7 linked regions of the Homo sapiens genome follow. The protein of the gene in region 6 purifies or fractionates together with the protein of the main gene of each other region. This does not show direct contact. Each region holds a gene or a part of one and is shown on either strand. Other genes may lie near its edges. The genes, in order: DCLK1, NAV1, KIF1C, SRSF12, KIF13B, LRFN1 and TESK2.

The links.
Region 1: the proteins of LRFN1 (region 6) and DCLK1 purify together in Homo sapiens (affinity purification with mass spectrometry, with the first as the bait; one large-scale study listed by BioGRID). This does not show direct contact.
Region 2: the proteins of LRFN1 (region 6) and NAV1 purify together in Homo sapiens (affinity purification with mass spectrometry, with the first as the bait; one large-scale study listed by BioGRID). This does not show direct contact.
Region 3: the proteins of LRFN1 (region 6) and KIF1C purify together in Homo sapiens (affinity purification with mass spectrometry, with the first as the bait; one large-scale study listed by BioGRID). This does not show direct contact.
Region 4: the proteins of LRFN1 (region 6) and SRSF12 purify together in Homo sapiens (affinity purification with mass spectrometry, with the first as the bait; one large-scale study listed by BioGRID). This does not show direct contact.
Region 5: the proteins of LRFN1 (region 6) and KIF13B purify together in Homo sapiens (affinity purification with mass spectrometry, with the first as the bait; one large-scale study listed by BioGRID). This does not show direct contact.
Region 7: the proteins of LRFN1 (region 6) and TESK2 purify together in Homo sapiens (affinity purification with mass spectrometry, with the first as the bait; one large-scale study listed by BioGRID). This does not show direct contact.

Annotation. Positions count from the first base shown.
Region 1 is NC_000013.11:36,121,378-36,124,954, forward strand, and holds part of DCLK1 (serine/threonine-protein kinase DCLK1), read right to left. Parts: intron 1-3,577.
Region 2 is NC_000001.11:201,808,069-201,811,645, reverse strand, and holds part of NAV1 (neuron navigator 1), read right to left. Parts: coding exon 3,497-3,577; intron 3,229-3,496; coding exon 3,036-3,228; exon of another isoform or gene 2,944-3,035; coding exon 2,775-2,943; intron 2,483-2,774; coding exon 2,385-2,482; intron 2,205-2,384; coding exon 2,109-2,204; intron 1,701-2,108; coding exon 1,541-1,700; intron 1,124-1,540; coding exon 888-1,123; intron 44-887; coding exon 1-43. UniProt on the Homo sapiens protein: May be involved in neuronal migration.
Region 3 is NC_000017.11:5,021,947-5,025,499, reverse strand, and holds part of KIF1C (kinesin-like protein KIF1C), read right to left. Parts: intron 3,409-3,553; coding exon 2,791-3,408; intron 2,033-2,790; coding exon 1,349-2,032; 3' UTR 1-1,348. UniProt on the Homo sapiens protein: Motor required for the retrograde transport of Golgi vesicles to the endoplasmic reticulum. Has a microtubule plus end-directed motility.
Region 4 is NC_000006.12:89,098,256-89,101,138, forward strand, and holds part of SRSF12 (serine/arginine-rich splicing factor 12), read right to left. Parts: intron 693-2,883; coding exon 323-692; 3' UTR 1-322. UniProt on the Homo sapiens protein: Splicing factor that seems to antagonize SR proteins in pre-mRNA splicing regulation.
Region 5 is NC_000008.11:29,256,494-29,260,070, reverse strand, and holds part of KIF13B (kinesin-like protein KIF13B), read left to right. Parts: intron 1-3,577. UniProt on the Homo sapiens protein: Involved in reorganization of the cortical cytoskeleton. Regulates axon formation by promoting the formation of extra axons. May be functionally important for the intracellular trafficking of MAGUKs and associated protein complexes.
Region 6 is NC_000019.10:39,306,035-39,308,510, forward strand, and holds the end of LRFN1 (leucine-rich repeat and fibronectin type III domain-containing protein 1 precursor), read right to left. Parts: coding exon 1,599-2,476; 3' UTR 532-1,598; downstream 1-531. UniProt on the Homo sapiens protein: Promotes neurite outgrowth in hippocampal neurons. Involved in the regulation and maintenance of excitatory synapses. Induces the clustering of excitatory postsynaptic proteins, including DLG4, DLGAP1, GRIA1 and GRIN1.
Region 7 is NC_000001.11:45,358,627-45,362,203, reverse strand, and holds part of TESK2 (dual specificity testis-specific protein kinase 2), read left to right. Parts: intron 1-3,455; exon of another isoform or gene 3,456-3,552; intron 3,553-3,577. UniProt on the Homo sapiens protein: Dual specificity protein kinase activity catalyzing autophosphorylation and phosphorylation of exogenous substrates on both serine/threonine and tyrosine residues. Phosphorylates cofilin at 'Ser-3'. May play an important role in spermatogenesis.

The sequences.
Region 1 (3,577 bases), on a different chromosome or scaffold from region 6:
AAAGAGACAATTCAGGAGTTTTAAACTGCATGCAGTTCTGAGTAGTGTGATGAACTCTCACGCCATCTTGCTTCTTCCATCTCTATCACAAGAAGGGCAAGTACAGTACAAAAGGATGTTTTGAGAGAGACGCCACATTCACATAACTTTTATTATAGTATATTGTTATAATTGTTCCATTGTATTTGTTATTGTTGTTAATTTCTTGCCATGCCTAATTTATAAATTAAACTTTATCATATACCTTGCATCATATACATACCTTTATCATAGGTATGTATTCACAGGAAAAAAAGCACAGTATACACAGGGTTCAGTACTATTTGCAGTTTCAGGCAACCACTGGGTGTCATAGAACGTATTTCCTTCCAGGATAAGGGGGCATTGCTGTATATGTGTCCTTCACATGCACTGGTATCTCTGAGAGGACCCTCAAGAAACTAGTAGGCTGGGCACAGTGCCTCACGCCTGAAATCCCAGCATTTTGGGAGGCTGAGGTGGGTGGATGGCTTGAGCCCAGGAGTTTGAGACCAGCCTGGGAAACATGGCAAAACCCTGTTTTTTGTTTTTGCTTTTGTTTTTAAAGAAAGAAAAAAGAAAAGAAAAAGAAACTAGTAAAGTGGTCCCCTCTGAGGAATTTTAGGAAGAGCAAATTTTATATCTATTCAAAAATTAATTTTAAAAAATTCATTATAGCAAGGAGAGGCATAGAGAAAGCCAGTGAAATAGGGAAATAAAGTAGAGGATGCTCTATTAGGGAATAGGAAAAGATGGGTAACCCAGAGGCTGTGGTAGGAAAGAGATTCCCTAACTGTGGGGTGAAGCATGGGTTTAATCCTGAGAGGGGGATTATGATAGAAACTTGGAAAAAGCCCTTATGCAAACTGCAGCTCCAGAGTCAGGCAACGTCCATACAGGGTTAGTGAAAAGCCAAGGCATACATGAGAACCAAAGAAGAAGAGGGACTCATCTCTAATAGCGCAGATCTGATGAACAAATTCACTTACTTGTATCCAGAAGATTACATATCTACAGAGTTTTTATCTTAATGTTTAAAGAAAATGTTCTGGCCCTCTCACATGTACATTTTCATAAGATGTTAAAAGAAGGACAAATCAGTCAATCCATCAATGCTCCAGGTTTACATTACATCTTTCTCCTAAGAGTTCAAAGGCTTTAAATGTGACACCTTTATTTATCATCACAACATTTACCTACCTACAGTAGAATATAGATGGTGCAAAATTGGGGGAAATGAGGCCAAGTCTCAAGATGAATCACTTGCGGAAATAGGCCTGCAATTCAACTTTCCTTATTAAGCATCATGATTTTTTTAAAAAAACATATTAAGGCCATTTTGAAAGCAAACAAGAGTGTCACCTTTGGAATGCTCTTAAGTGTATGTGTGTGAATATGTGTGTATATACATACATATGTGCATAGGTGACACACATACAATCATAGACACACACATTCACACTGACTATATGATTTTGGCTCAGCTAAATACATACAGCTAGCTCTACCAACATGCTTAAACCACACTTAGGCATAATAATCCATAGATAAAAACAAAACAGTGACAGTGACCACAAGACTGTCATAGATAAAGAAATTCACAAATATTGTAATTCAGAATTTTTAGTCTGAGAGCAAGTGAGAAAGAGCAAGAAAATAACTATAAGTCCAATACACTTGCCACTGCACCCACTAAAAGGATTTAATTTAAAACTCAAACATCATCATATTGGAAGGGGAAATGAAAAGCTAATAACATGCACTGACGTTTACATAAAATTAGTATGTAAAGTCAGAGATATGAGCCTAATGATGAATATGAACCAACGGTTTGCATTTTAACAGACTAAGCAAAAAATGTAATTGACAAAGAGGCGAATCTAAATGAATTTCCAGCTATTTAAACACTAAGTGCAGCTGCATGCTAATTGTCAGTGTTATGAATTAGAAAAAAAATCTGTTTAAATGAAAATTCAAAAAATAAATGCAGCCAACATGGTGAACTCACACACTGTACCAAAGTTACCATTCATTCAATCAGATAATTTTTTTTTCCCAAAAAAGTCATTTTTAAACATCAGAATATTCAGTCGGCAGTTACTTCACATTGATTGAGGGGAAAAACTCAATATAGTAGTTGAATTCATAGCACACAGCATCTTAGAGGTAGTTATGAGCTCAAGCTTTGGCACTAGCCTTCCTGGGTTCAAATCCTAACTCTACCATTTCTTTCTTTGTGAGTTTGAGCAGATCATTTAACCACACTGTACCTTCCTTTTCTCACCTTAATATAAGGATAACAGTTCCCACCTCCTAGGATCATTGTGAGAATTAAATGTATTCATATATGCAGGGATTTGGCCAGTGCCTGGCACATGCTCAATAACTGAGAGCTATCATTATTACCTTCAGTCAAGACATCAGTCCCTCAGAGAAAGCATTATTTTGCAGTAAAAGACAAAGAAGATGGTGACAAGCATGCCATAATTTTGCTGGTCCCTAGATGTGAAGGGAGTACTGTCATCTACCACCTCCCAGACCCTCTCCTTGGTGGATGGGAGTCATTGGAGTATCTTCGGCCACTTCTAAGTAAAGATCATTTCTGGGTGGGAAACTGATTGAAGTACCCCAACCCCCATAGATGCTACACAAGTGACTCTGGAACAGAGTGAGGTGTCAACCCATGGCTGTCTTAGGATGTGCTTTGAGATCTTGCCATATTTTTCCCTACAGTACTACCGGCCCTCAGAGGGACGGCTTGTTGACTGGTCATGCACCTGACTTTGCGTATAACTTTTATCCAGATCCCCTAGACTATACCACCAAATGTTTCATTTAACCTTGGATTTCCAAAGGTCATGCAAAGGACAGGGCACAGAAATTAAAGCTGAAACAGTAAAATTTCATGTTAATTCTTCTCCTTTAATTTACTGGAAGTTCCACCCTCTGAATAGAAGGAAAAAGGCCAAGTCCACAGGCATGTTGGCAGCATGTCAAGTCACCGAAAAGGGATGTGAATTCCCACAAAATAAACACAGGCTCCTCTGCACGCTCTCAAGGCCAGTCACACTGTGATCAGGCTGGCATTTCTGCCAAGGGATGAAGGGAAGCAAAAAGGGAGAAGTCCCCAGCCTTGAATCACATACATACACTGGTTACAAAGCAGGACAAGAGGGCTCTGTCAGTGTGCGGTCAGGGGAGAGCAGCCCCCAACTCCAACGGGGCTGCAACGGGTGCTTCCTGCTACCTGCACAAGAGAGGGAGGGATTATATGGCATCCCTCCTGGACCCAGTTGAGTTACACGGCCTGAGCAAATAGTTCTGGAGTAAAAATGAACTCAAGGTGAAATCAAGCTCTTCCAACACTCCATCCAACCTCCCTTTCCCAGATTCTTTTGTGCCATCTACTTCTTCATCATCAGGGCCTTGAGATCTCAATTTCAGAAAAATCAACCCTCCAAAAAGGATCTGCTAGCTTTTTTTGCACCTTGGTATACATTTAATCCCAGTCTTTTTTCTCCAACTCATTTTAATTGGCGATGATTTCTAAGGCAATGAC
Region 2 (3,577 bases), on a different chromosome or scaffold from region 6:
GGTCTATCTGGTTGGCTAGGTTGGAAAGATACAGTTGCAGATCCTGGAATAAAAGAAGGCTGTGGGTCAGCACTTGGGAATAAGCAGCTGGATCGGCCTTGGAAATCAGGATTTTGAAGAAGTCTTACTAGATCTAGATTCCCCTGGGGCCTTTAGTTCCTTGCAAATTTGATTACAGCAGATTACCACAGAGTGATAAGCAGTGGTTGCAAAGGCTCTAAAGCAACCCTCTTAAGCAGCAGCCCCTAAATTCCCCAAAGTTGGGGAACATATGCTATTTCCTAGATGGATTTTCACTGGTACCATGGACTACTACTAATGGGCATGCCTCCCCGAGCTGGGAAGAGCAAAGATCTGAACCAACTCCATTGTATTAGGGTACTCAAGAGACATCATCAGGTTTTGGCAGGGGAGGGTGTAATATGTACCATTTAATTCTGAGTGCTTCTTCCCAGATAGCCCAAGGTCAGAGAGTAATACTGAAAAGAAAAGTAGAAGGAAGAGAACAAAAGAGAAGGGATGGGATTGACAGGGTTGGCAGACAGTGGGGTAGAAATGAGGAGAATGCAGTTTCATCAATGACCAACTGAGGAGGAAGGTGCACAAAGCAAGGAAAAGTGTGGAGAGGAAAGCCTTTCTCCATAAAGGCAAGGGAAAGTGTGGAGAAACAAGTTAAAGGCAAGAGGCTGGAAAGAAATCGTGGGGAGGGAAAGGAGAAGACTGGAAAAGGGGATAGATAGAGAGGGAAGGAAATGAACACAGAAGAGAAGAAAGATGAAGGCAGAGGTGAGGAAAAGGGAACAATGAGGCAGGAAGGGGCCGAGGAAGGGTCTTAGGGAAGGCTGAGGCATGAACAAAGGCTGGCAGGGGTGTCGGGGGGCAGCCACCTTGCAAGACTGCTGGTGCATGTTGAAGGTGCTGACGATGCCCTCTGTGACCTCACGGCCAGAGCGCTCCACCAGGTACTCGGCCAAGCGATTGGTCAGGTAGGTCTTGCCCGTGCCGCTGGGGCCCGAGAGGACGAGGCGCCGGTGCTTCAGCAGGAGGCTTATGTAGTGCTGCATCATCGGCTTGGGGATCAGCGTCTCGAACACCAGGCTGTCGACGCATTTCTCCTTCAGACCTGAACCCCCACCCCAGAAAGCATGAGTATTGACCAGGGTCTTGAGGATAGCAAGGGATCCTAAAGGGCTTTTCTTTCTTTATCTAGGAGCCCCCTGAAGAAACTCAGAGCCACTTGCCCCATGGTTCCATAAGAGTCCCTTAACCCCTAGTTTTGAAAACTTAGATCTTCTTTTTAGGGACATGCTGTGAGCTGGGGGTGAGGAGTGAAGCAAGAAGCCAAGGCTTAGCAAAAGTGTCCCTGGGAGCCAAAGTTAGGACTGGGTCTTACTCATCTTTTTATATCTCACATTACTTAAGCATCTTCATATTATACCTTCTCAGTGAGTTCTTGGTGAATGAATGCATGATGGATTATTTGATGATCCTGTCCCTGCCTTCATGCCACACCACCTCACCCCAAGAGACAAAGACTGACCTTTGAGGGAGACTGATATGTTATTGACACCTCGACGGCAAGGAGGCATCTCGGGGGGCTCTGCATCCAACACTCGTTTCACGTGGCTGATGCTGTAGCCATGGATGGACTCAGTGCTTAGTCCCAGGGTAGAGGCTGGGTCCATTTTAGAAATATAGTCCTGACAGAAAAGACAGGCAGAAGAAGAAGAAAATATACAAACACAGGTGTAAAAGCCACAACAAAGAATGTCTATCAGAGGAAACAGAAATAGATGGAGAAAGTGCAGAGCATATGCTTTTCCTAGGTAGCATTTCTCCATAAAGCCTCAAAGGTCCCCAGGATCCCAGTGCCTGGACGGTTTAATATCCTGTGAGAAGCCATGCATGGTGGCACATGCTTGTAATCCCAGCTACTCAGGAGGCTGCGACAGGAGAATTACTTAAGCCCAAGAGTTCAAGGCTGCAGTGAGCTGTGATCACGCCACTGCCCTCCAGCCTGGGTGGCAAGAGTGAGACCCTGTCTCTAAAAAAGTATATATATTCCACGAGAGGATGAACAACCTTTTTGAGTACAGGTATCCCTTTACCTTGAACACTTGGAAAACAGCTTCATCCAGCATCTTCCAGTCAACTTTTCCACTGACCTTGCTACAGCCCAGGAAGAATTCCTGCTGCTTCAAGTCCTGTAAGGCCAAGGAAGGAAAAGCTCTTGAGCTTCACTGCAGATGACTCCATGAACCGGGGTCCTAAAGGCCTTAGGAGTTGAGTTCTTTGGTTTTGGAGGTACCCAGGGTCCAGATTTTCTTGGATAAATGTAACAGTATTTGTTCATTCCCACTGTGGCTCTCCCTGAAGTTCCTTACCCCTTTGATGATGTGCTGCGGGGGCATCCTCACCACCACCCGGAGGGTCACTTCCTCCTTTGGACCACAAGTACTGATGCCATCCATGGGTGACAGGTCTGTGGGGATTGAAAAGAACCAACTGGTTTTAGGAGTACCCGCAGCCTTTCCTAAACTTTCCCATCATTATCCTTTCCAAAATAACTCTGTTTGCCACAGAGAAGGAATGGAGGTCCCAAACTCAAAAGTAGTTAAGGTTGAAGGACCATTACAACTCAGTGTCTTAGGACACTGGCATCTGCTTGGCTTCGGCATTGTTACCGCCCTGACCAAAGCAAGTGGAATGGTGTAACAGTGAAATAAGCCCTTTTCTTCCCTTCACCCTTATAGATTCTTCTCCCACACAGGTACCTGTGTCTGCAAGACTGGGGCCGAAGGAATGGGTGAGTGCCAGGCCTAGGGAGCGGCGTGGGGAAGATAATGCAGATGATCCAGGGACCTGCCCTGGAGTGGAGCCTGATGAGGGGCCTGGGGCTACCTTCAGTCGGTCATTCTCTGCTTTCAGCAGGTCCACCTCCAACTGTGGCAAGAACAGACAGGGTAGGGTGGCAGACTGGACAGACAGCAAGCCTTGGTCTTCCCTTTCCTGCAGCTGTCCGCCCAGACACTGACCTGCATGTTGTGCATGGTCTCCCGAAGCTGATCCAGTTGGTGGGCAGAGTTGAGGGCCTCCAAGCGGATGTCTGTAAGCTTCATTTCCTTCTCCCATAGCTCAGAGCGCAGCTCCGATACCTCCTTCTTCTCTGGCTCCTCCTCCTCATTTGCATGGAACAGCCTAGTGTGGGGGGCTGGGTGAGCAGGGCCCCTGTAAGATAGCAAGAGTCAAGCCAGGCTACATGAAGAAGCACTAGAGTTACTAGAGAATATTGAGAGGCATGGTTGGTGGTCTTGGCTTCTCCTGCCCATTGATATTCAATCAGCATGAGAAGAAAGGTCCATCTGTTGGTCTCATATGCCCAGGGAGAGGTCAGTAATAAGTACTGCTTGTCTAAGGTCTAATGGCCTCCTGTCAACTCTAGCCCACAGCTTACACTGGTAACAGGCTGGGTGGCAGGGAGCCAAAGAGCACTTACTCGGTGACATCAGTGCCCACGGAGGACGAGGTGGAGGACTTGATGGAGGGTGAAGCAGTCTCTGTAGAACCATGCTGTAGT
Region 3 (3,553 bases), on a different chromosome or scaffold from region 6:
GAACAATGATGTAGCCTGCCAGAAGGCAGGTAACACAACCAGGATGAAAACAATCAGGTAAGCGCAGTATGCTTGCCCAACCCATTCACTATCAAGAGAAACTGGCTGCTTGGGAGACCTTTCAAGTAAGTTAGGTGACTTAAAGCAGAACTCCTCTGTACCCCACAAATCCTTCTGTATCTGTCAGCAACAGCCAGTTAAGCATTGACAGGCTGGCGGTCCCTCTACCTCCCCTCGCATCCCCGCTTCTGTGCTTTGTCCATAACAGACAGTGGTGCTGCTGGCACAGACTGAGACACTGGGTAAGCAAACATGAAAGCAGGGGAGGCCGGGCGCGGTGGCTCACACCTGTAATCCCACCACTTTGGGAGGCCAAGGTGGGCGGATCACTTGAGGTCATCAGGAGTTCGAGACCAGCCTGGCCAATATGGTGAAACCTCGTCACTACAAAAAAAACAGTAATGAGCCGGGCGTGGTGGCACATGCCTGTAATCCCAGCTACTCAGGAGGCGGAGGCTGCAGTGAGCCAAGACTGTACCTCCAGCCTGGGCAACAAAGCAAGACCCTGTCTCCCAAAAAAAAAAAGCGGGGAAAAGATCGGGCTGCGCACCCTGAAGGAAGAGACAGGAGGGTGAAGTTCAGGAAGACAAGATGGAAACATTCTTATATCCAGATCTGGGTGGTGCCTGCACAGAGCACACATACAATACTTCACTGATAAGTATGCTTAAGACCTGTGCCATTGCCTTATATAACCTACACCTCCATGAAAACCCAAAACAAACAGGCCACAAGCTCCCTGTTTGCTATCCTTTATTAAAGGGCCCACATCCTCATGGGACTCCAGCCAAACCAGTCAGGTCCCCCAAATATAGCAGGAGGCCTGGAAGGGGAGGGGAATGACTTATGATCCTACCATGCCTCCCAAGAAACAGAAACCACCACAGACAGACAGACAGACGGACAGGGGCTGGGGAGAACTTGCCTCACTCTCAGTCCTCTCCCACTTTCCCCCACTTGAAAAGAAAGTCAAACACTGGCTACGCAGCACCCCAGCCCCCCACCCCACCCATAGCAGCGTTTGTGGGACACACCCCCTTTGCAAGGGGTGGCCCCGAGGCAGCTTCCTATCTCTCTCTTCACTTTGGTTTGCTCCTGGCAACTCCGTGCCCTCTTCCTTTCCTCAGCCTCCGGCTCGGTCTCCCCCTTGTCTTCTATCACCTACTCGGACCTTCTCTCTCATCTCCTGGGCCTCCCTGCCCCAGCACTTCTGGGGAAGCAGCGTCTCGGGCGTCTTCCCTTCTCCTAGCAAGGGGCCCCACCAGGCCCTCTGCCCAGGATGTGGGACTCACACAGCTGCCCCACTCTCCTTGAGGTCAGGGGCAGAACGCTGCCGTCTCATTCGTGGGGGAGTAGTGTATGGGGGGTAGCGGGGCCCTGGGGGCCGCTGGGCTGGGTAGGGTTGGGGTGGCTGGGGATAAGAGTTGTGCTTTTTGGGCTGGAAGTGCTGGGGTTCAGGCTGTGCAGAACCCGCTCCCCGGGATCGGCCCCCTCCATCCAGGGAGTTCCTGCGGGGATGGTGGGACCTTCGGGGACTCGGAGGCCGGCGGGCAGGGGTGGCTGGATGGGGAGTGACCTCCTCAGGGGGTTGGAGCGGAGTTGGAGCCTCCCCGCTCCCCATCCCTGGCCAAGACTCCCGGTGCTGGGGGTTGCTCTTGAAGGGGAAGCGTAGCTTGCAGTCGTGAGGGGGCACAAAGCGGGCTGGGGGCCTGCGCAGCCCCCCGCCCCGGCCCCCAGAGCCCTGCAGTCCCTGCAGCCGTAGCTGCTCCTGCTTGAGCCAGCGAAGACGACCACGACGGAAGGCAGGGTCCTCCTCCATGAGCCGTGACACCCGCTCCCAGCTTGACAGTGGTGGCGAGGGGGGCCGGGCTGACGGCATGCGGTCACTGGGGGCTGCCTCCTCTGCTGCCTCTGATCCTTCAGGCGGGGCCCAGGGGACCTCACCACCTTCTTCATTCTCATCCTCATGATCCTGGGAGGGAGGAGTGAGAAAAGGAGAAGGGATGTGAGGAGAGCTGAATCCTCAGGACATGTGGATTCAAGAGGGACCTGGAGTGGCTGGATGTCAAAGGGTCCAGAGAAAAGCCTAGAGATAAGGAAGCTCGAAAAATAGTGGTTTAGGGCCGGGCGCAGTGGCTCACGCCTGTAATCGCAGCACTTTGGGAAGCTGAGGTGGGCGGATCACAAGGTCAAGAGATCAAGACCATCCTGGCCAACATGGTGAAACCCCGTCTCTACTAAAATACAAAAAAAAAAAATTAGCCGGGTGTGGTGGTGCGCGCCTGTAGTCCCAGCTACTCAGGAGGCTGAGGCAGGAGAATGGCTTGAACCTGGGAGGCGGAAGTTGCAGTGAGCCGAGATTGTGCCACTGCACTCCAGACTGGCAACAGAGCAAGACTTCACCTCAGAAACAAAACAAAACTGCAAACTTTATATCAGTGGGTCTTAGACTTCACTGTATTTCAGAAACACCCAGAGCTTATTATAAATGCAGATTTGTCCCCAAAGATGTGGATTCAGTAGGTCTGGGGTGGAACCCGGGAATCTATTTTAATTAGCAGCCTGGTGACAGCGAGGCATGTGGTTCGTAAACAATATTGAAAAAAACGTACTATACTTCAATGCAATTTTTTCCAGACTTGGGGAAGGTTAGGCTCTGAGATGGAAGGTTCAGACTCCTAAAGTGAAGAGCCGAGGGAGGAGAGAAGGGAGGCAGAAGGCCAGTCCTACCTGGGCCAGGGGGATGACCCTCTCCATGCGGAGCATGCGGTCCCGCAGGGCCTGCAGCTCCCGGTCCTTGCTGCTGTTCTGCAGCTTCACCTCCTGCAGAATCCCCGTCAGCTTGTCGATGTGGGCCCGGAGGTCCTCCACCTCCGCCCCTCGGGCTCCCTCCTCACTGCCACCACCACTGCCAGCTCCACCTCCTTCCTCCTCGCCTACAGTGTCCCAGACATCCCGGGCCACAGCCCTCCAGGCGTCTCCGGGGCCGTCTGGCTTGCCATAGGTGCGACACAGCTCCCGCATCTTGAGGGCGGCCAGGGCCTCAATCTCAGCCCGCCCGTGGCGGAAGTCAGCCAGGGCCACCTCGTAGCAGATCTCCTTCACCGCCTGCATCTTCAGGTCAGCCATGGTGGCCCAGCGGGGGTCTTTGCCCTGCAGCCTGCGTCGCTGGGGGATCTGATAAACCCTGCGAGGGGCCCTGCGCTTGCCACTGCTGGGCAGACCACAGCGTTTGACAATGGTCTGGACCGTGGTGGGCGGCAGCTGCTCCCGCAAGGAGGAGATGAGCCTCCAGCTCTCTTCACAAGAGCGCTTGTCAGAGTCATCCCCGCTGTCCGAGTCTGCATACTGGGGCCAGAGAAAGAAAGAGGAAGAGAGGGCTAAGGACATCCAGAGCCCATGTGTCTTGGCCCAGTGTGTCCTAAGTACACTGGAAACACGCCCATCAGGGAGCCTGGGTTCAAGTCCTGCTCCACCCCAACAGCGCACCCTT
Region 4 (2,883 bases), on a different chromosome or scaffold from region 6:
ATAGTACTAATACTATGCAAGTAGAATTTTAAAAATTAGTTCCAGTTTACTCATTTCCCTTGAAAAGTACCCTTCTGCCACAATGTAAATAAAAAATGGTCCATAAAATGGTGACATTAGACAAATCATAATTTGTAGTGTGGGCCCTTTAAATGGAGACCAAATTTTTATTAATCCAAAGCTAGAGATTTTATTTCTTCCATATGCCCAAAGTAACTAATATCAACTCGCATTTTCTGTATGCCTTAAAGAATTTTTATTTAACATAATGAGAGTTTAATAACTTATATTAAAGACGGCGTGGTGCTCTTTCTGTTGCTGTTCACCAACTGTTTTTATGACGATAACTTCGAGATCTGGAATGTGACCGAAAATGAGAATGCTTTGCTGTTTGTACTTTAGTTTCAGAATTGGTATACCCTTTGGGAGATTTACACGGGGATCTTGCTATTGAGTCAGAATGTCTTCCATGTGATCTTGATTTTGTTCCTGAGCTAGTCTGCTTTTGAGGTGAACTTGACTGTGATTTTCCTATTGACTTGGACCTCTTTTGTAAGGACTTGGACCTTGACCGTCCTCTAGAGCCAAAATTCCTTCTTGGAGTTCTTGACTGCCTTGCTGAGGTAGACCGCCTTGGTAATGATTTGGAACGAGATTTAGACTGGCTATAAGAAAATCGCCTGTGTCGAGACCTGCAAACATCCATAATGTTAGAGCATATATTTCACACAAAATAAGAGATCAGGAAATAACACTTTCAGGAACTTACATACTTTACATAACATTAGTTATATTTTTACTAGATAAGCTAAAAAAATTTCTCATTTTATTATGCATGCTTTTGGTTCAAACATAAGTAACAAGTTTGTAATATTTGTTATACTAGAATATATGGCCAAAAATTTTTACTTTGCTAGACATATAGGGATCAGTTCTGAAAAATACACTGCATATTTGGTCTGAGTTATACAGCTCTTAAGAGGTACAAAAATCTGAAGAAAAAAAGATTAAAAAAATCAATTATTTACAGTTCAAATAATGCTTATAAAAATAAAAATCTAGATGTAGGACTTTTGGGTCCTGCCATGACAGAACAGCTTGTATTAGACTAATCTTCCCATAGAAAACAGCTCTCTCTCTCTCTCTCCATATATATATACATATATATATGTGTGTATATATATACACATATATATGTGTGTATATATGTGTGTGTATATATATATGTGTGTGTATATATATATGTGTGTATATATATATACACACACACACACACATACATGTTTTTTTTTTTTTTGAGACGGAGTTTCGCTCTTGTTGCCCAGGCTAGAGTGCAATGGCACGATCTCAGCTCACCGCAACCTCCGCCTCCCAGGTTTGAGCAATTCTTCTCTCTCAGCCTCCAGAGTAGCTGGGATTACAGGCATGCGCCACCACGCCCAGCTAACTTTGTATTTTCAGTAGAGATGGGATTTCTCCATGTTGGTCAGGCTGGTCTCAATCTCCCGACCTCAGGTTATCCCCCTGCCTCGGCCTCCTAAAGTGCTGGGATTACAGGCGTGAGCTACCACACCCAGCCGAAAACAACTATATTGAAAAGCTACACAACATTTATAAAACAACTGTTCGAAGGCACTGGAGGATAATCAACACAAGCAGGAAGAACCTGAGGGATTACAAGCCTTGGCTCTTTTACTAAGACCATTTTTCAAATGACAGCATGGAGGAGTTGAGCCCAACCAGAAAATGGCTATTTGACTAAGCTGAAGAGAGAAAAGTTAATTCAGGGCTACCAAAATGGGTGGGACACGAGAGGCAAAAACTCTAGAGAAGAGTGAATTAGAGACCAAAAAGTACCTCTAAAATTTGCCTACAAATTATCCTTAAATCACTGGCCATCTTCTAAGTTGTGTGTGTATGGAAGAGATTCCAAGGGACCAGCAAAAAACCGGAATTCAGAAATTCAAGAACTGCGCTGAAATTTTTATCAGACACACAGTGCTGAGAGAGAGATTAGAGTTCAAACTCCCAAAAGGTCAATGAGGAACATTAGGTAACAACCCAGAAGGGCTACAATCTAGAGGTAAGGGCCATGCCCTAGGAATAAATTCAAAGCCAAAACAAGCAGCTTTAACAACACCCAAAACCAAGCCTTAAGATCAAAGTGATCTGCCAGTACTCTGTCTACCAGAAGAAAACTGTCTTTGGAGAATGATAATGTCATGCAGAGCCTCTATAATTTTTTGTCCATGTCCACATGTTATGTTAAAAAAAAAAAAAACAGGCAAGAATAACTAAAAACTAAGGAAAATAAAAGGCAAAGAATCATTCCCAAAGTGATTTGGATATTGGCATCATCAAACAGGAATTTAAAAAATTACTATGAGTAATATATTTAAGAAAATAAGAGGAAAAGACAAAACAGATAAAAAGATCGTTCAGTGGAAAACTACAATCTATAAAAAGAAACAAATAGACATTTAAAACTAAAAATATATGATATCTGAAATTAAAAAGTCATTAGATGGTCTTAACAGCAATCTAGATATAGCAGAAGAAATAATGAACTAGACTGGGTGCAGTGGCTCATGCCTGTAATCCCACTTTGGGAGGCCAAGGCGAGTGGATCACCTGAGGTCAGGAGTTCAAGACCAGCCTGACTAACATGGTGAAACCCCATCTCTACTAAAAATACAAAAATTAGCCTGGCATGGTGGTGCATGCCTATAATCCCAGCTACTTAGGAGGCTGAGGCAAGAGAATCAATCACTTGAACCTGGGAGGCAGAGGTTGCAGTGAGCCAAGATCGTGCCATTGCACCCCAACCTGGGCAACAAGAGAAAACCTCCAAGACAAAAAAAAAAAAAAAAGAAAAGAAATAGT
Region 5 (3,577 bases), on a different chromosome or scaffold from region 6:
ATATTTGTCTAGTCATACATTTATTTTAACATTCCACTAACAAAAGGAAAAAGAAAAAGAAAAAAGTTCACATACTTTCTTCATCCTAACAGCTTTTCATTTCCATGCCAGTTTGTGCTCACACGTGTATGTAATTTTACATAATTTTAATATTACAACCTTTATTTTGCCTTTCTTCATCTGAGATGCAAAGCTAAACAACTAGAGAAAAGGGTAAATTTTTGTCACAAGATCTTCAAGTTCTATTTGCAGATATCGTTTGTTTTCCAGTGTTGTTGTTCAGACTGTACAGCTAAACAGATAATTCTTGTGTGCTTCCATGTGCCGCACAGAACACCCATTCATACATTATTAACCCGTCTAATCATTACAGGAGCTGAAAGTTCTGTAGCCGTAATTGGTGGGATTAGTTAGATCAGCAACATTCTCCTTTCCAGGAATTTGATGTTTTCTAACTTTAGGTGGCTTAAAAAACATTTAATAGGTAAGCAAACATTGATTGAGTGCCTGCCAGGTATCTGGCTTATATTAGATAGGATGAGATCTTAATGCTTTTCCTCAAGGGATTTCCTGTGTGTAAATCTGTATAAGATCAACTACCAAAATAAGTAAATATCTATAAAAGGTGTTTGGAATACCTTTGTTACCTACCTAGCCTAAGGGGGTAGAACCGGGAAACGAAAGAAATGAAGATAGAAACAGTGAAATAGATTATTTCAGGTGTTAGGGAGAATGGACAAGAAATTTATTTCAGGAGATATTTCAAATGAGTTTACTTGGCATTTTCCAATACTTGATGTGGTGAAAGACACAGAAGTATGTAATAATGTCTAATAGAGTCAATGTAGAGTCAGTGCCTTGGTAATCATGATCTAGTATCTCAATGGAGGGACTATTATACAGCGATTAAAATGATGACAGTCAAAACCATTTAACAAGGAAGATCGTTTTCTCTGTTAGTGGAAAAAGAATGTAAAGCTGTACGTGTAACTGATCAAATCTATTATTATTACTATGTAAAAATGTATACAGGAATGGGCAAGAGCTAGAAAGAAACATGAAAAAGTGAAATTGATTGTTCTTGTTAGGGGGATTTTACTTCCTAAAAGTTTTCTTAGGGTTGCCTGTTACCATCATATTCAGTTTCTTAAAGCATGCTTTATGGTTCATGCCTGTGAGGAAATGACTGTCATGGGCTTGAAAAGAAAATGCCTGTGAAAAGATTAGATTAAAAGGTAAACAGCTGTAGCAGGCTGCTAGTTACTAAGTGCCAGGTGAATGACAGGGAAATAAGGGAATCGAGAGGAGTTTAGACTTCACTGAGGAGGGTGAACTTTGGTTGGACTTCCAGGGAGGAAGCTTATGATGTGAGCACGGGAGAGGGGATGGCATGTATTCTTTGAGGAGGAAGTATGGCCTGAGAGTGAGGACACAGAGACTAGAATGAGTAAAGCAGGTTTAGGCAGCAGAGATGAGATCTGCCTGCCAGAATGGAGATTCTGTGAGGATAGCTAGAGAATGATGGGACAGGAAAGGTCAGGTGGATTGCAGGAAGCCCTGAAAGCAGCCAGGCCAGAAGTCCGGACCTAGGGTGGCTGGTCCACGCACTCTGTTTTGCTTCTTGGGACCTTGTATGGGGCTTGGACACAAACACAACGGGGAAAGATTGCTAGATCCCAAAGCAAGATTGGAAGCTTCAGTAGATGACCGATTTCTGGCATAGCTGGGCAGGATTTAAAAGCGCTTGCTGAAAATGAAGCCTTGTGAATGGGAAGCATAAGGAAGTCGGTCAAAATTAAGCAGCTGTGAATCAACAGGCAAAGGAAAAACCCAGCAAGTGCGAGGAAGCTTAGAAGATGCTGGTAGTCAGTGAAGATAGAGGTGACCCTTAGGAAATGAAGGGACAGGAGAAGGTGGCTTTGACCCCTGGGGTCATTGGTGATTCTTCAGTATTCTCAGAGAGATCACTGACAGATGTGGAGCCAAGGAGGACCGTGGATGGAAATTTCTGGCAGTATTTGCTAAAACAGAAGATACTTGTTTTGTCAGCATCTGCTTGACATGCTAATGGTGAATGAGACACACATGTATTACAACATTGTTTTGTTTCTACTGTCAACTCAGTGACTGAAATTTGGATATATGCACATAGGGCCAGAGGCATTTTGAGAAGAAGGTATACTTTTAAATTCTTTTCCCCAAATCTCCTGTTTTTTGTTTGTTGGTTGGTTTCTTTGTTTTTATTTATTTATTTTTTTTGAGACAGGGTCTCCCTCTGTTGCCCAGGCTGGAGTGCAGTGGCATGATCATCACTCACTGCATCCTCAACCTCAACCTCCTGGGCTCTAGCGATATTCCTGCTGCAGCCTGCTGTGGAGTTGGTACATAGGTGTGCACAACCATGTCTGTCTAATTTCAATATTTTTTGTAGAGATAGGGTCTCACTTTGTTGCTCTGGCTGGCCAGACCTCTTTTCAAGAAATATACATTTATAATATAAAATACAATGTTGTTTAATTGGCATTAGCTTTTACCCTCTCACCTCCATAAAACAATAACTGTCCGACTTTTCCACTTCTTAAGTGCTGAAAATGGAAGAAACCACTGACAAAACTATTAATTAAGGAGATGGATTGAAGTGCTGATTGAGTGGAAATGGATGTATTGATCTCTATGCTTGCTCCTCAAGTTCCCCTTGTGTTTGGCAGAGCATGTTCTTTAAAAAAAAAAACAAAAACTCGACCAAGATGAGCAGTGTGCCCTGTGACCTGGGAAGTGCGTGAAACTAACTGGTCCACTCCATGCAAGTCCATGACTTAACTGTATGGGGCTTTCGCTCTGAGGAGATAAAGATATCTTTAGAAAATGGTATCCATTAGTCATTCATTTCAACAGTGTTGACTGAAGAAAAAGAAAATAGCTGCTTTTTGACAACTTTCTATTTGCGAGCAATGGAGTTCAATGCTTTTTAATGCATTATTTTATTCTTCAAACCAGACTTTGAAAAGGAATTGTAGGCCAGGTGTGGTGGCTCACCCCTGTACTCCCAGCACTTTGGGAGGCCGAGGTGGGTGGATCACTTGAGGCCAGGAGTTTGAGACCAGACTGGCCAACATGGTGAAACCCTGTCTCTACTAAAAATACAGAAACTAGCTGGGTGTGGTGGTGAGTGCCTGTAATCCCAGCTACTCAGGAGGCTGAGGTGGGATAATCGCTTCAACCTGGAAGGCGGAGGTTGCAGTGAGCTGAAATCGCACCACTGCACTCTAGCCTGGGCGACAGAGCGAGACTGTCTCAAAACAAACAAACAAACAAACAAAAAAAGTAGTAATTGTAGCATTTCTATGTAGCAGAACCTCAGAGAGGTTAATTAACATTCCCAGAATTACAAAACCCACCTGTGCTTTTACTACAATGTTGGACATGATTATCTTTAAGAGGATCTTGCTATCCTGAGATGACACCATTTTCAAAGATGTGCAGGATAAACTGGAAGCATAAGTCTTGATCTTCCATCAAAGGAGCTCCCAGTCTTGTTGATAATAAGATGCACATGTGAGTTCATTGGAAGAATATA
Region 6 (2,476 bases):
AAATGTCTACACCTGGACGGACTTTGTCACAAGAAATTATCTGTCTGTCAGTCTCAAATTCCAGAGACATTTACAAGCTAAATTCTATCTCCTGGACCCATTTATTTTCCCCAAAATCATTTATTACCCCTCAAAATTGCCTTCCTTTCCCCATCTCCCCTCCTGTGAAGAAAGGTATATAAGTATATAAACCTCACTGGGTTATTGGGTAATCACTTTCCTGTGATTTTCCTAGTGCATGTTAAATACCCTCCATATTCCTTTTCTCTTGTTAATCTATTGTCAGCCCATTCCAGTGAAATTTCAGAGAGTGAAGGGGAAGCTGTCTTTTCACCCCTATAGTAGAGACTCAGAAGTTGGCCTGCCTGCCTTTTTAAATCCCAGTTTTACCACCTTGGGCCAGTTATTTAACTTTTCTGGGCCAAAATTCCCTCATCTGGAAAACAGGATAATAATACCGATATGTCCTGGTGTTGTGAGAATTAAATGACTTAAGTGCTTGGCACATAGTAAGTAAGTATTCACTAAGCGTTAGCTATTATGATCATTTTATTTTTGTGATTATTCCCCACCTCTAAGTCTCTCAGAGGATAAAAGCCTGTCTGCCAGTCTCCTCCGGCCCCAGTTAGTCATCTTCCCATCTTCCTTCAGTCTCACTTAGAGTCCTTATGCTGCAATCTAGGTCACCCTCCCCCAACACACACACACACACACACACACACACACACACACACACACTACACGCGGACACACATACAGACACACACACAGGTCAGCAGGGCCTCAGACACAGAAAAAAGTTTAATTCTGCTGCGGCGGAGGGTCCCGGCTCCGGTAGGGAGGGGGATTTGGTTTTGGATTTTGTTCGTGTGGGGATTTATTTGGGAGAGTCTGGTCCTTCCAGTGGGACCTGCCCGGGAGAATGAGTAAAGAGAAGAAATCAGGAGAGACAGGGAGACTAGACAAAACCAGGGAGGGCCGAGGGACAAGAGACGACAGGACAGAGAGAAAGGAGAGGCAAATAGGGAAAGACAGGCACTACAGAGAGACGACAAGAGGGCGGGATAGAGACAAACGAGGGAAACAGAGAAAGGGGGACCCCAAGCCAGACCCGACCGGACCAGGAATGTGCGTGGGGTGGGGTGGGAGGCTTTGGAGGCCGCCGCGGGACAGAATAGGATCTAGTCCAGCCAGATACAAGAAATGGGCCCCTCGCCCCGGCCCCGGGTGACGGGCTGGGGGAGGGGGCTCGTGTCTCAGTGCTGCAGTGTCAGGGGGCCCTGCCCCTCCCCGCGCTTCGCTGTGTAAGGCACCGGCTCCAGCGAGGTCCGCGAGCGCGCGAGGGGAGGGGTAGGAGGGGGGTCGAGGAGTCCATAGGGGAAGGGAGGCCGGCAGCCGGTCCCCGAACCCCGCCCTGGGCACGGGGGCGTGGCCTCGAGCCGCAGCCCGAGGCTGCCCCGCCCCCTCCCGGGGACAAGGGCGCGTCTCCACTCTGGTCCAATGTCTTGGCGCTGCGCTTTCTCCCAGTCCCGCCCCAGCGTCCGTGCGGCTGGGCGTTTGGTCTGCGGCACCCAGGCGTCCCGGCGCCCGCCCGCCGCTCACACGGTACTCTCCAGCATCCACTCGGTGCTGGTGAAAGCCAGGCACGCCCTGGCGGAGCCCAGCCCCAGGTCTCCATCCTCCCCGGCCGCGCCCCCTCCAGCCCCGTCCAGGTGCGGCGTGGACCGGTGGCGCTTTGTCCGCCGGGCGCGGCGCGGGTAACTGTGGCTCTGGAATAGTGCCCCGTAGTCCCCGTCGAACGAATAGCGCTGCTGCGGCCTCGGCCGGGCCGCGGCTCCCCCAGGAACTAGAGCTAGAGTAGGGGGCGCCGAGGTTGGTGGCTCCAGGGCGCCGGATCGGCTCCTTCGAGGGCCCACCGCGGCCCGAGACTCCTCCCCGGAAGTTTCCTCGGATGGCAGCAGGCACAGCGAGGTGGCCGAGCCGCCCAGAGAACGTCCAAGGACCACCTCCGGCTCCGCGGATGCCGTCTCGGCCTCCATGGCCTTGGCCTCGACGGCGACGGCGGGGGCAGCCTGGGACTCCACCTCGCGCAGCGCCTCGTAGTGGTCCTGGGCCGGCAGGGCCGGGGCCTGTGCCGCGCCTGTGCCTGCGCCGTTGGTCTGCGAGCACACGTGGCTGACCCGCGGGAGCGACCTGGAGCCCTTGACGCGGCGGCTGTCCCCGTCGCCATACACCTTATAGCGGATCATGAGCAGAACGATGAAGACGAGGACCGAGGCGACGATGACGCCCCCGATGGCGATGATCATGGTGCCGCCCAAGAAATGGGCCCTCAGCGGGCGGCAGGGCGCCGGATCCCCAGCGGTGGTGAACTGTACACAGCCCACCACTCGCGTTGCCGGCAGCGCTGTGGCCCCGTCGTCGTAGACCGCCAGCACGCACAAGTCGTAGGCACGGCCCGCCGCCAGGTCATTCA
Region 7 (3,577 bases), on a different chromosome or scaffold from region 6:
AGCTTATAAACAACAAAAATTTATTTCTCACACTTCTGGAGGCTGGGCAATCTAAGATCTAGGCACAGGCAGATTCAGTGTTTGGTGAGGGCCTACTTCATGGTTCATAAATGCCTGTCTTTTTGTTGTGTCCTTACATAGTGGAAGGGACTAAAGAACTATGGGGACACTTGTACACACATTCTCTATCGTGGTAAAATACATATAACATATAATTTACCATCTTTTTTTTGAGTGGGGGTCTTGCTATGTTGCCCAGGCTGGTCTTGAGCTCCTGGCCTCAAGCGATCCTCCCACATCAGCTTCTCAAAGTGCTGGGATTACAGGCGAGAGCCACTGTGCCTGGCCAAGAGACAAGTTCTTACTCTCATATGGAAGTGGCAGTAGGGGGAGGAGTGCTCAATAAATGTTTGTAGAAATAACCTGAATTGATATTCCTGAGTGGAGAACTGAGTGTCCACTTCTCTGTGCCTTTGGTGATTTTAAAAAAGATGTTGGCATATGATTTCTTGCATTTTAGTAATAAAGGTTTATTTACATAATATAGTTGAATTACCAATACACTTTAGAAAGTTATTGAGTGCCTTCTAGGAAAAGGCTGTATATATTTAATGAAACCAAGTATCAAACACAAATGAAATGGAAGAAACTCTGTTATTTTATTAGACCGTGAGGAAGTGAGGCAAGTTTTGGTATAGGTAAAGTTGGTATAGAAAAAGGTAACAGCCACTGAGAGGTATTGAAGTATCTATAACACATTTTATTGACTGTATTATAGTTTTCTAACTTGAAAGGTTAAAATAACAACAATTAAAAATATTAAAACTTCTGTATTAATTAAATGTATTACCAATGCCTTGGGTCATTTTATAGGGCTGACCGAGGGAGTAGTCTAGCTGAAAATGAAAGCAAAGCAGCTGTTATCCCCATCCGGGAAAGCTGAACATGCTAATGCAGTTGCTCTTGTCTCTGCTTCCTGCAGAGGGATTTGTTTAGAGGCCACACCAGCTGAGTCTGCACTGGGAGTTGCTTATGGAGAAGTGAACATTCCAGCTAATGGGCACAGAGACCGTGTAGCAATCTTCTGGCTGGGTGCGGTAGCTCACGCCTGTAATCCTAGCACTTTGGGAGGCTGAGGCGGGTGGATCACCTGAGGTCAGGAGTTCGAGACAAGCCTGGCCAACATGGGAAAACCCTGTCTCTACTAAAAAATACAAAAATTAGCTGGGTGTGGTGACACAGCCTGTAATCCCAGCTACACGGGAAGCTGAGGCTGGAGAATCACTTGAACCTGGGAGGTGGAGGTTGCAGTGAGCCGAGATGGCGCCACTGCACTCCAGCCTGAGGGACAGAGTGAGACTCCGTCTCAAAAAAAAGAAAGAAATCTTCCTTGTTGACAAATCTCAAATTTCCTTTTCTTATGCATGCAGAGGTCTTGAAACATTGAGAAGCGGTTTCTGAGGGCCTACAGGCTTATCAGCCCAACTAATGTATTCACCAAAGGCAGGCAAGAGAAATGGGTTGTAAAAGCAAATTCCATTTGTTTTCCCTCTCTGGTCCTTGGTTTGCGCTTTTTCCAGTTTGCCTGGAGAAGCCAGAATCTATTAGCCAAGTGTGATTCCTCATCTTTTGTCACCTTTTCCTGTGCTCTCCACCCTCTGGCTTTGCATATGGATTTCCAGGGCCTTCAGAGACACTGCTGAACAGAGTAAACAAGTGTTTCCCAGAACCAAGAGTCCTGGTGTCACCTGGCCTATAGAGAGTGCACATACAGTCTTTTCATTATAGTGTCTTCTGCCTGGCACTCAGTTGGGAAACCTGAGTGGCTCCTGAAGACAGGCCCGACATATCACACTGTCATCATGCTAAAGAAGTGAACCACTGCCTACCTTTTGACTTTCAGAGCTAAAGAAATCTGCCTGCATGATTAGATGTCAGCTTCACTGCCCACTTATAACCCTGAAGTTCACAAGCTCAGTTTCTTTTCAGCAAATGGGCACCTCAAATGTGAATCTTGGGCAGATTCAACTAGAATGAAGAGAGCAAGGCGCTGTGCTTATGCCGTCATTATGCCTTATTTTAAGATTTTCAAAGATGGATTATCAAGCAGGATGAAGCAGATCAACAAGTTTCCCTTTTGAGAAGTTGGAAGATTTATTTTTAGTCATTCTTTCTGTCTTGCCAAAACTGGTCCGACGCTTCCAAGGATCTGAAGTGCTGCATGGTGCTGCCCCCAACTGGTTCTTTTTGGTGCTTATATTATTACCACATCAGAAAATATATGACATTTAAATTTTTTTCGAAGCGCTTTCACATATTTTATTTTATTATTATTTTTTTGAGACAGAGTCTCACCCTGTTGCCCAGGCTGGAGTGCAGTGATATGATCTCTGCCCACCGCAACCTCTGCCTCCAAGGTTCAAGTGATTCTCGTGCCTCAGCCTCCCAAGTAGCTGGGATCACAGTCGTCTGCCACCATGCCCTGCTTATTTTTGTATCTTTAGTAGAGATGGGGTTTCACCATGTTGGCCAGACTGGTCTCGAACTCCTAGCCTCAGGGGATCCACCTGCCTTGGCCTCCCAAAGTGCTAGGAATACAGGTGTGAGCCATCTCGCCTGGCCAACTTTTACATATTTTTTTTTCAAGACAGGGTCTCACTCTGTTGCCTAGGCTGGAGTGCAGTGGCTCAATCTCACTTCACTGCAGCCTCCGCCTCCCGGGTTCAAGTGATTCTCCTGCCTCAGCCTCCCGAGTAGCTGGGATTACAGGCACCCACCACCATGCCCGGCTAATTTTTGTATTTTTAGTAGAGATGGGGTTTCACTATGTTGGCCAGGCTAGTCTTGAACTCCTGACCTTAGGTGATCTGCCCGCCTTGGCCTCCCAAAGTGCTGAGATTACAGGCGTGAGCCACGGCGCCTGGCCAACTTTCACATATTTTATTAGATTCTCATAACAACACTGCAAATTAGGTGAATCAGGGATTATCATACCTACTTATAGTTGAGAAAAGTGAAAGATGGATAGCCTTATTAGTTGATTTGTCCAAGTTAAATGGCTATTAGGAGGCTGAATTGGGCTAGAATTCAGATATTTCTCCTCTTATCCCATTAAGTTCCCTAGTCCTTTGTAAATGCAATGGTACCCAAAAATATGTATTAAGATATAAATTTTAGGCTTAGAGGAATTTCCCTCTTTTTCTCCCTTGGGAGGAGGAGGGAGATAATACATCATATAAGGTTTGAGTAAATTCATTTTTGAGCTCCTGTGCTGCATGAGGCTCTCTTACTCAGATGCTGTGGTCTCTAAGTCTCCAGTGCAACGTAGTGGTAAAGAGTATGGACTCTGGAGCCAGACTGCAGAGTCTGCCAGTCTCTGCCACTTAATAACTGGATAACTTTAAGCAAGTTGCTTAATTTCTAAATGCCTTCTCTAAAATGAGTAATAGTATGTAGTCATTTTGTAGTCCATAGCACGATGATTGGATTTTCATGTGCATGTGTGAGGTGTACTACCCTCAAACCTTATTAATGTCTGCACGTTGTCTGACATGAAAAAAAAAAGGAAAAAAAGTAC